2 linked regions of the Homo sapiens genome follow. The protein of the gene in region 1 interacts with the protein of each later gene in a pairwise test. Each region holds a gene or a part of one and is shown in the gene's direction. Other genes may lie near its edges. The genes, in order: TSPAN33 and CHRM2.

Region 1 (3,827 bases):
CACTGCTGCACTTGACTAGACTAAAAAAAAGAAAATTACATTTAAAAAATTGTGATAAAATTTACATAATGTAAAATTTACCATTTTTAAGCATACAGATCCGTGGCATGAAGTACCTTCAATTGTTGTGCAACCATCACCACCATCTCCAGAACGCTCATCTGCCCCAGATGAAACTCTGTATCCATCAAACACTAACTCCCCATTTCCTCTCTTGAATCTCTGTATCCATCAAACACTAACTCCCCATTTTCCTCTCTTGAAACTCTGTATCCATCAAACACTAACTCCCCATTTTCCTCTCTTGAAACTTTGTATCCATTAAACACTAACTCCCCATTTTCCTCTCCTGAAATTCTGTATCCATTGAACACTAAAGCCCCATTTTCCTCTCCTCCAGCAACCACCATTCTACTTTCTGTCTGTAAATTTGACAACTCTAGGTACCTCAAATGAAGGGACTCACGGTATTAATGCTTTTTTGAGTGGGTTATTTCACTTAGCATGTCTTCAAGTTTCATCTCTGTTTTGGCATGTGCCACAACTGCCTTCCTTTTGAAGGCTGAATAATATTCTGTTGTATGTATATGCCACATTTTGTTTATCCATTCATTCACCAGTGGAGAAAAGGGTTGCTTCCACCGTTCGGCTACTGTGAACAAGGCTGCTATGAATCAAAAGTTAACAATTAGGCCAGGCATGGTAGCTTACATCTGTAATCCCAGCACTTTGGGAGGCCAAGGCAGGCAGATCATTTGAGGTCAGGAGTTTGAGACTAGCCTGGCCAACATGATGAAACCCTGTTTCCACCAAAAATACAAAAATTAGCCGGGTTTGGTGGCGCACACCTGTAGTCCCAGCTACTCAGGAGGCTGAGGTGCGAGAATAGCTTGAATTTGGGAGTTGGAGGTTGCAGTGAGCCAAGATCATGCCATTGCACTCCAGCCTGGGTGACAGACAGAGACTCCGTCTCAAAAATAAATAAGTGAAAAATAAAAGTTAACTTTTTTTTTTCCCTGAGACGGAGTCTTGCTCTGTTACCCAGGCTGGAGTACAATGGCGTGATCTTGGCCCACTGCAACATCCGCCTCCTGGGTTCAAGTGAATCTGCCTGCCTCAGCCTCCTGAGTAGCTGGGATTACAGGTGCCTGCCAAACCACGCCCAGCTAATTCTTGTATTTTTAGTAAAGATGGGGTTTTGCAATATTGGCCAGGCTGGTCTTGAACTCCTGACCTCAGGTGATCTGCCCTCCTCGGCCTCCCAAAGTGCTGGGATTACCGGTGTGAGCCACAGCACCTGGCCAAAAAAGTTAACTTTTAAGTAAAAGTGCTTCTGAGACAAGTCCTGAGTTCCCCTTCCTCTGGTGCAATAGACACTTGACTTTGAGATCCAGTTGGCTCTCATGGAGTAATGATTGACTCACAATATTGAAGATTCCTCCCCTGTGTTTTCTCTATCTTAAGGAGAAGTTTTTCAGCACTGATACTGTAATTATTTCAGCCAATACTTTTGATCACTTCCATTTGCCTGCAAAGCCAGAAACTTCTCTCAAGAAGATTATAGCTGAGTATGTAAAACAAAATATATGTACAACTGTAATACCAACAAGCACAGTGGTAAGTTATAACAAGATATACGAAGTAATAGAAATTAAGAAGTGAGAATATCTTCAGGCGAAGGCAACTGGGAAGCTGGAGCTCAAAGTTTAAGGCTGTGTTAAAACACAACCTAAAGTTCCCAGTAGAAGCTTGCTATAGACTTTTGGTGGCTCTGAGAATTCCCCTGGTCACCTCAGTGTGAGGGGTGGGTGATTCTTAACCTCTGGTGGGTTTTGTTGCAGTTTAGCTGCTGTGGAGGGATTTCCTACAAGGACTGGTCTCAGAACATGTATTTCAACTGCTCAGAAGACAACCCCAGTCGAGAGCGCTGCTCTGTGCCTTACTCCTGTTGCTTGCCTACTCCTGACCAGGTGAGCCAGCATCCTGCCTCATTTCCTCCTAGGCAGCGAGCTGAGTCACTTTCTGATGGGGGCAGCTGCTACTGGGGATCCCCATCCCCTAGCTTCACCGATCAGTCATGTGGGACAGCTGTCAGGTGTTTTTCTTCACCCCAACCTGATGCTTCTATTAACCTCATACTCATGTAGTCCACATGGAGTTCAGAAGGGACAGATTTAAGTTTTAAGTTCAGATTCAGTACCTGTGCAGGTTTGTTATATAAGTAAACTTGTGTCTTAGGGGTTTGTTGTACAGATTATTCCACCACCCAGAGCAAAGAGACCTGGATCCTGACCTCTCAGAGGAAGGGAAGTCTGCATTTGGCAACTTCCAACCCAATATCCTCCACATATATTCTCTGACAATTTAGGAGTTTGGGAAGGGTGGGAAGCCCATCAGCTAAGGCCCCAAACAAAAAGTTATTGGAATTACAGTCCCAATTGGCTTTTCAACTCTTTCCCCAGGCAGTGATCAACACTATGTGTGGCCAAGGTATGCAGGCCTTTGACTACTTGGAAGCTAGCAAAGTCATCTACACCAATGGCTGTATTGACAAGTTGGTCAACTGGATACACAGCAACCTATTCTTACTTGGTGGTGTGGCTCTAGGCCTGGCCATCCCCCAGGTAACTTACCCTGTGAGACTTGTTGGTCCCACACACTCTGTAAAGACTCCTTTGTTTTGGGGAAGGCACCTGGGGATCAGCGAGGGTGTCAGGCACTGACATGGCTGAGGGGTAGGGAAAGGGATAGTGCTGGCCGCACTGGGAAGATCGAGCCAGGGAAAACAAGGCCATCACTCACTGCTGAGTGCCCAATTCCTTCTTGCCTCTCCCAGCTGGTGGGAATTCTGCTGTCCCAGATCCTAGTGAATCAGATCAAAGATCAGATCAAGCTACAGCTCTACAACCAGCAGCACCGGGCTGACCCATGGTACTGAGAATCCATCCTGCACCTCCTCACCATGGAAACTGGCAAGCCTCATAAACGAACAGCAGTGGGTGCTGAAAGCAGCACCAAATGGAGATTTGGATTCCAGCCCCCCAGTGACAGCCCAGTGGGAAGAAGCAAACTCCAGATGGGCAGAAGGCAGGGTGCACAGGTGGCTCCAGTCTCAGGAGGATGCGCCTCCTCTCCCCCATCCCAGCCCTCAGCATTGTGCCAGAGTGATACCCTTAAGTGTTTGGGTTTATGTTTTCAGTTTTGTTTGGGAAACAGCAGTTGCACAGAGAGTTGGGGGTACTGCTGCTGCCTTTTCACCGAGGCACTGCCACCACCAGCTCTAGCAGGGATGCTCCTGAGCTTGGCGGACATACTTAGATCCTAACGTGCCAGTGAGACCTGGCTGTGGAGAGTAGCACTGGCAGCCCTGCCTGGACTCCACTTGGCATGATACCAGCTCCAGAAGGGAAGGGAGTGGAGCAGGCAGTGAGGAGAGAGCCTGGGGGTCGGCTGGGGACAGCCGTATGTGCTAGGTAGGAGTGGAGGGAGATATGTTTACCAAATGCCTGTCCTGCCATCCTCCCAGGTAGTCAGAGTGAGCTACATCCTGCCCCGCCTTCATTTCCATGGAAACATGGCAGCTAGGACACGGGGTACAACAGCAGCCAAATTCTTCCCCACCTCCCTTACTTCGAAAAAAAGTTTGGAACCCTGGTCCCTATACTCTGCAGTCAGAAGTGGGACTGAGCCATACATGCCCTTGAATTCCTCCCTGTCTGGCCCTCCCTCTCCAGCAAGCAGGGTTTTCTTTAACTTGGCAGTGTGCAGAGGAGAAGTGGTAACACCCCCACCCCATTCCCCTGCATCGGAGCTCAGTATTCCTACAG
Region 2 (3,827 bases), 7.8 Mb from region 1:
AGACCGCAGAAGAAAAGTCTATCACAGTTTCCAAGACAGATCAAGTCACCTTCTGAAATTGTTCTCACTGGGCTCTGGCCAATTGGATGATGCACTCCAACACTGAGGGCAAAATTCCCCATCTAGTCCATTCACACTCAAACACGAATTGCCTCTGGAAACACCCTCACAGACACATCCGAATTAATATTTTATCAGGTTTCTAGGTATTCCTTAATTCTGCCAAGTTGACACCTAAAATTAAGTTCACAAGTCCACCACTTGTCAGCCTAGTGTTCATATACATCTCCTCAAACTATATGTTATTTCCAAATAAAAGCAGTAACAAGGTGATGGTTCCACCTAACATGATGCAGGCCAATGTGATGAGACCATCCTGCATGCAAGTGAAATGCCAACCCCTTTTCCAGAATTCAGCTTTCAGGATTTCAACATTCAGAATTTTAATCTTTCAGGATTGTAATTTTGGGGATTTTGGACCTTAGCAATTTAGATCCTCATCAAACTAGTTGATTTTGAATCCCTACTTTTCAACATCAGTGTTATTCATTATTCTCCAGAGGAAATTATCAAAAATCTTTTAAAAACTAGAATATAAGTCCTATGCTTTATCAAAATTATGAATAATTAAAATGCAGAGTCAATACATTCATTTTTTGTATTTTTCAAACTAAGTGAATTAATATTAACATTTCATGAAACAGATACACATATAGCTCAACTCCAAACTGTCCATGAATTTATCTAATAAACAGAGAAAATGCTGCTTATAAGCAAGTCACAATTCTGATCTTACAGTTAGCTGAGCTATTAAGAAATTGTTGGAATAAGAACTGGGATAATAAAATGTTTTTGTTCAAATAAATTACCATGAATATACAATTGTATGATTAATTGCAAAAAAGGATTGTCAAAGGGAAATCCGATTAAAATAATTCAACTGATCTAAGTTGCATTCCATTAACATCATTTCCCTGATTAAACTCTTCAATATTTCCCAATGAGCTGCAGGCATACATATGTAATATTACATATAATCACCTTTTTGCTTAAATAAAATTATATTCTGTAATAATCTATGTCTCACTATGATTATGTCATCTTCTAACTATATAACTTTCCACAGCAATGCCAGGACACAAATATCTACCTGTTTTACTAGCCGCATAATATTCCATTGTAAGAGTATTCCATAATATATTTAACCAATCCCTTGTCAATGAATAGTTTTAATATATCTCGGGATTTTTTTGCTATAACAACATTTCTGAGTGAACATACTTGAGTAGACCTCTTTGTACATTTTTATGACTCTATCTGAAAGACACATTCCTAAATGTGGCATTCCTGAGACAAGTGTTTCTTAATACATTTTTATAGATACAGATTTAAAGTTCTATAGATATAGATACATTATCCTTCGTGGTGATTATCCCGCTAGTCCCACCAAAAGTATTCAACACTACCATTAATACTACGGATGGAAAATTGTTTTTCACTGTCTGGATTTGCATCTTTAAACTGTGGGGTTGAGTATCATTTCATATGTTTAAAAGTCATTAATGTCTAATTTTTCTTTGATTGAACTACTACATCAATGTTTTAGATTATTCATCTTTCATCTTTCCTTTTTTGCCAAAACTCTATTATATTAAAGACATTGGATAATTTTCTATCGTGCAATTTACAAATATTGTTTCTCAATTGTTATTTTGACTTTTTTGCTCTATGCAAAAATTTTAAAGGAATATGCAACAGTTACATATATTTTCCTTTCTGGCTTCTGAATTTTGGGTCTTATTATATTAAGGCCAAATCCCATTATTTGGGTTTTGTCAAATAAAATACTGGAAAACAATTGACTTTCCAAAGCAGAAAAAATTATTTTTTTAAATGTTATTTGTGTTATGAAGTTGCTTACCAAATTATTTTCTACATGGATTTCAAGGGCAAACCACTGCCCATTTCTTTGTAATTAATAGCATCCAAACTAATCAATATTCCCAAATTTTAATTTCTCAGCAATGCTTATTTTCTGACAGCTCACAGCAATTTTTTCAAAAAGAGGTGGAACTTGGGCTAGTTTCTGCTTCAGATGCTGTTTCTCCAGAAATGTGTCATATCTCTTTGATGAATTCTTAACTTTCTTTTCTAAATCCCCAATATACATTTTCCATTATGAAAGATCACTCAATTGTCATCAGACTTCAATGATATTATCTCAAAAATGATGATTATGTGTTTACTTACACACAACAGGATAGGGAAACAAGAAGTGCATTCAGGTTTAATAATTGCTTCTTCATCAACCCATGTCTGCCACCAGGCAGAGACCTTGTTTTAATCATCATTGAACGTCCAGAACACCTAATTAAGAGAAGCTGCTCAATAGATATGTGAGCACAAAGTGAAAGAATGAATGACTGAACAAACTGGGATTTCATCTTTCTGAGCCTTAGTTCCTTCTACAAAACAAAAAGTTTGGCAGAAAGAATAGTAAGATAATAGATTTGATAGTGGTTTGAAAAACAAAACATTCAGAAAAGTGGTATTTTCTCCCATAATTTTGTCTTCTTATTGATGTATTAATTTGTATGTCTATTCCAGAAATCTCTTTATGCTTTGGAAAGTCTTATGCATAATTTTGGCTTTTTCAGTTCAATATGCATTTAATAAGCAAATATTCTTGTGTAAGATATGGAATATTGGAAATGCTGATTATGTAATACTGATTACAAGTATGAAATAAAATAGAGGCAAGAGGAAAATAATTCTCATCTAGGGAGAGTATACTGGCTATTAAGTATTATTATATTATCTTTATTTTCACCATCCTCAGTGTTATTGTGAAAAAGGCTTAGAGCTTCCATGAGGAAAGGCACTGTTAACTATAAAAGTCACACATTCAATATTATACATTCTATGCTTTCTTCTATAATTGTGTCCTCTCACTAATTTACTAATTTTTATGTCTATTCCAGGAATCCCTTGATGTTTTAGAAAGTGTTGTTTGTAATTTTGGTTTATTTAATTCAATTTATCAGTATTATGCTAAGTTTCATGGATTGATGAGATATATAGGTAGATAGGTAGGTAGATAGATACTCATATCTGGATAAGGACATATTTAAAACATTACTGGACTTCAAGTTCATTGCCAGCCTGAAAGGTCCTTTTGAATCCTCCATTTGAAGGTCTTGCTTTTTACATGGGGAATTGAGGCAGGTAGACACAGTAATCATGCAGGGGAAGGGAGATTTGGGAGAAAATAATGTGGTTTAAAAGGAGAAACAACATTATGTATTTTAAACCAATGTTTATATTATGTTTGTTAATTTTATTCTATTTCCTTGCAGGTTTAAATGTTTATTTGCTACTTGGCTACTGATTAGAGAACGCAAAATGAATAACTCAACAAACTCCTCTAACAATAGCCTGGCTCTTACAAGTCCTTATAAGACATTTGAAGTGGTGTTTATTGTCCTGGTGGCTGGATCCCTCAGTTTGGTGACCATTATCGGGAACATCCTAGTCATGGTTTCCATTAAAGTCAACCGCCACCTCCAGACCGTCAACAATTACTTTTTATTCAGCTTGGCCTGTGCTGACCTTATCATAGGTGTTTTCTCCATGAACTTGTACACCCTCTACACTGTGATTGGTTACTGGCCTTTGGGACCTGTGGTGTGTGACCTTTGGCTAGCCCTGGACTATGTGGTCAGCAATGCCTCAGTTATGAATCTGCTCATCATCAGCTTTGACAGGTACTTCTGTGTCACAAAACCTCTGACCTACCCAGTCAAGCGGACCACAAAAATGGCAGGTAT

Evidence for each region.
Region 2: the proteins of TSPAN33 (region 1) and CHRM2 interact in a two-hybrid assay, tested with the Homo sapiens proteins (one large-scale study listed by BioGRID and IntAct).

The regions. Positions count from the first base shown.
Region 1 is NC_000007.14:129,164,937-129,168,763, forward strand, and holds part of TSPAN33 (tetraspanin-33), read left to right. Parts: exon of another isoform or gene 1-22; intron 23-1,841; coding exon 1,842-1,970; intron 1,971-2,462; coding exon 2,463-2,624; intron 2,625-2,836; coding exon 2,837-2,938; 3' UTR 2,939-3,827. UniProt on the Homo sapiens protein: Part of TspanC8 subgroup, composed of 6 members that interact with the transmembrane metalloprotease ADAM10.
Region 2 is NC_000007.14:137,011,464-137,015,290, forward strand, and holds part of CHRM2 (muscarinic acetylcholine receptor M2), read left to right. Parts: intron 1-3,356; 5' UTR 3,357-3,402; coding exon 3,403-3,827. UniProt on the Homo sapiens protein: The muscarinic acetylcholine receptor mediates various cellular responses, including inhibition of adenylate cyclase, breakdown of phosphoinositides and modulation of potassium channels through the action of G proteins.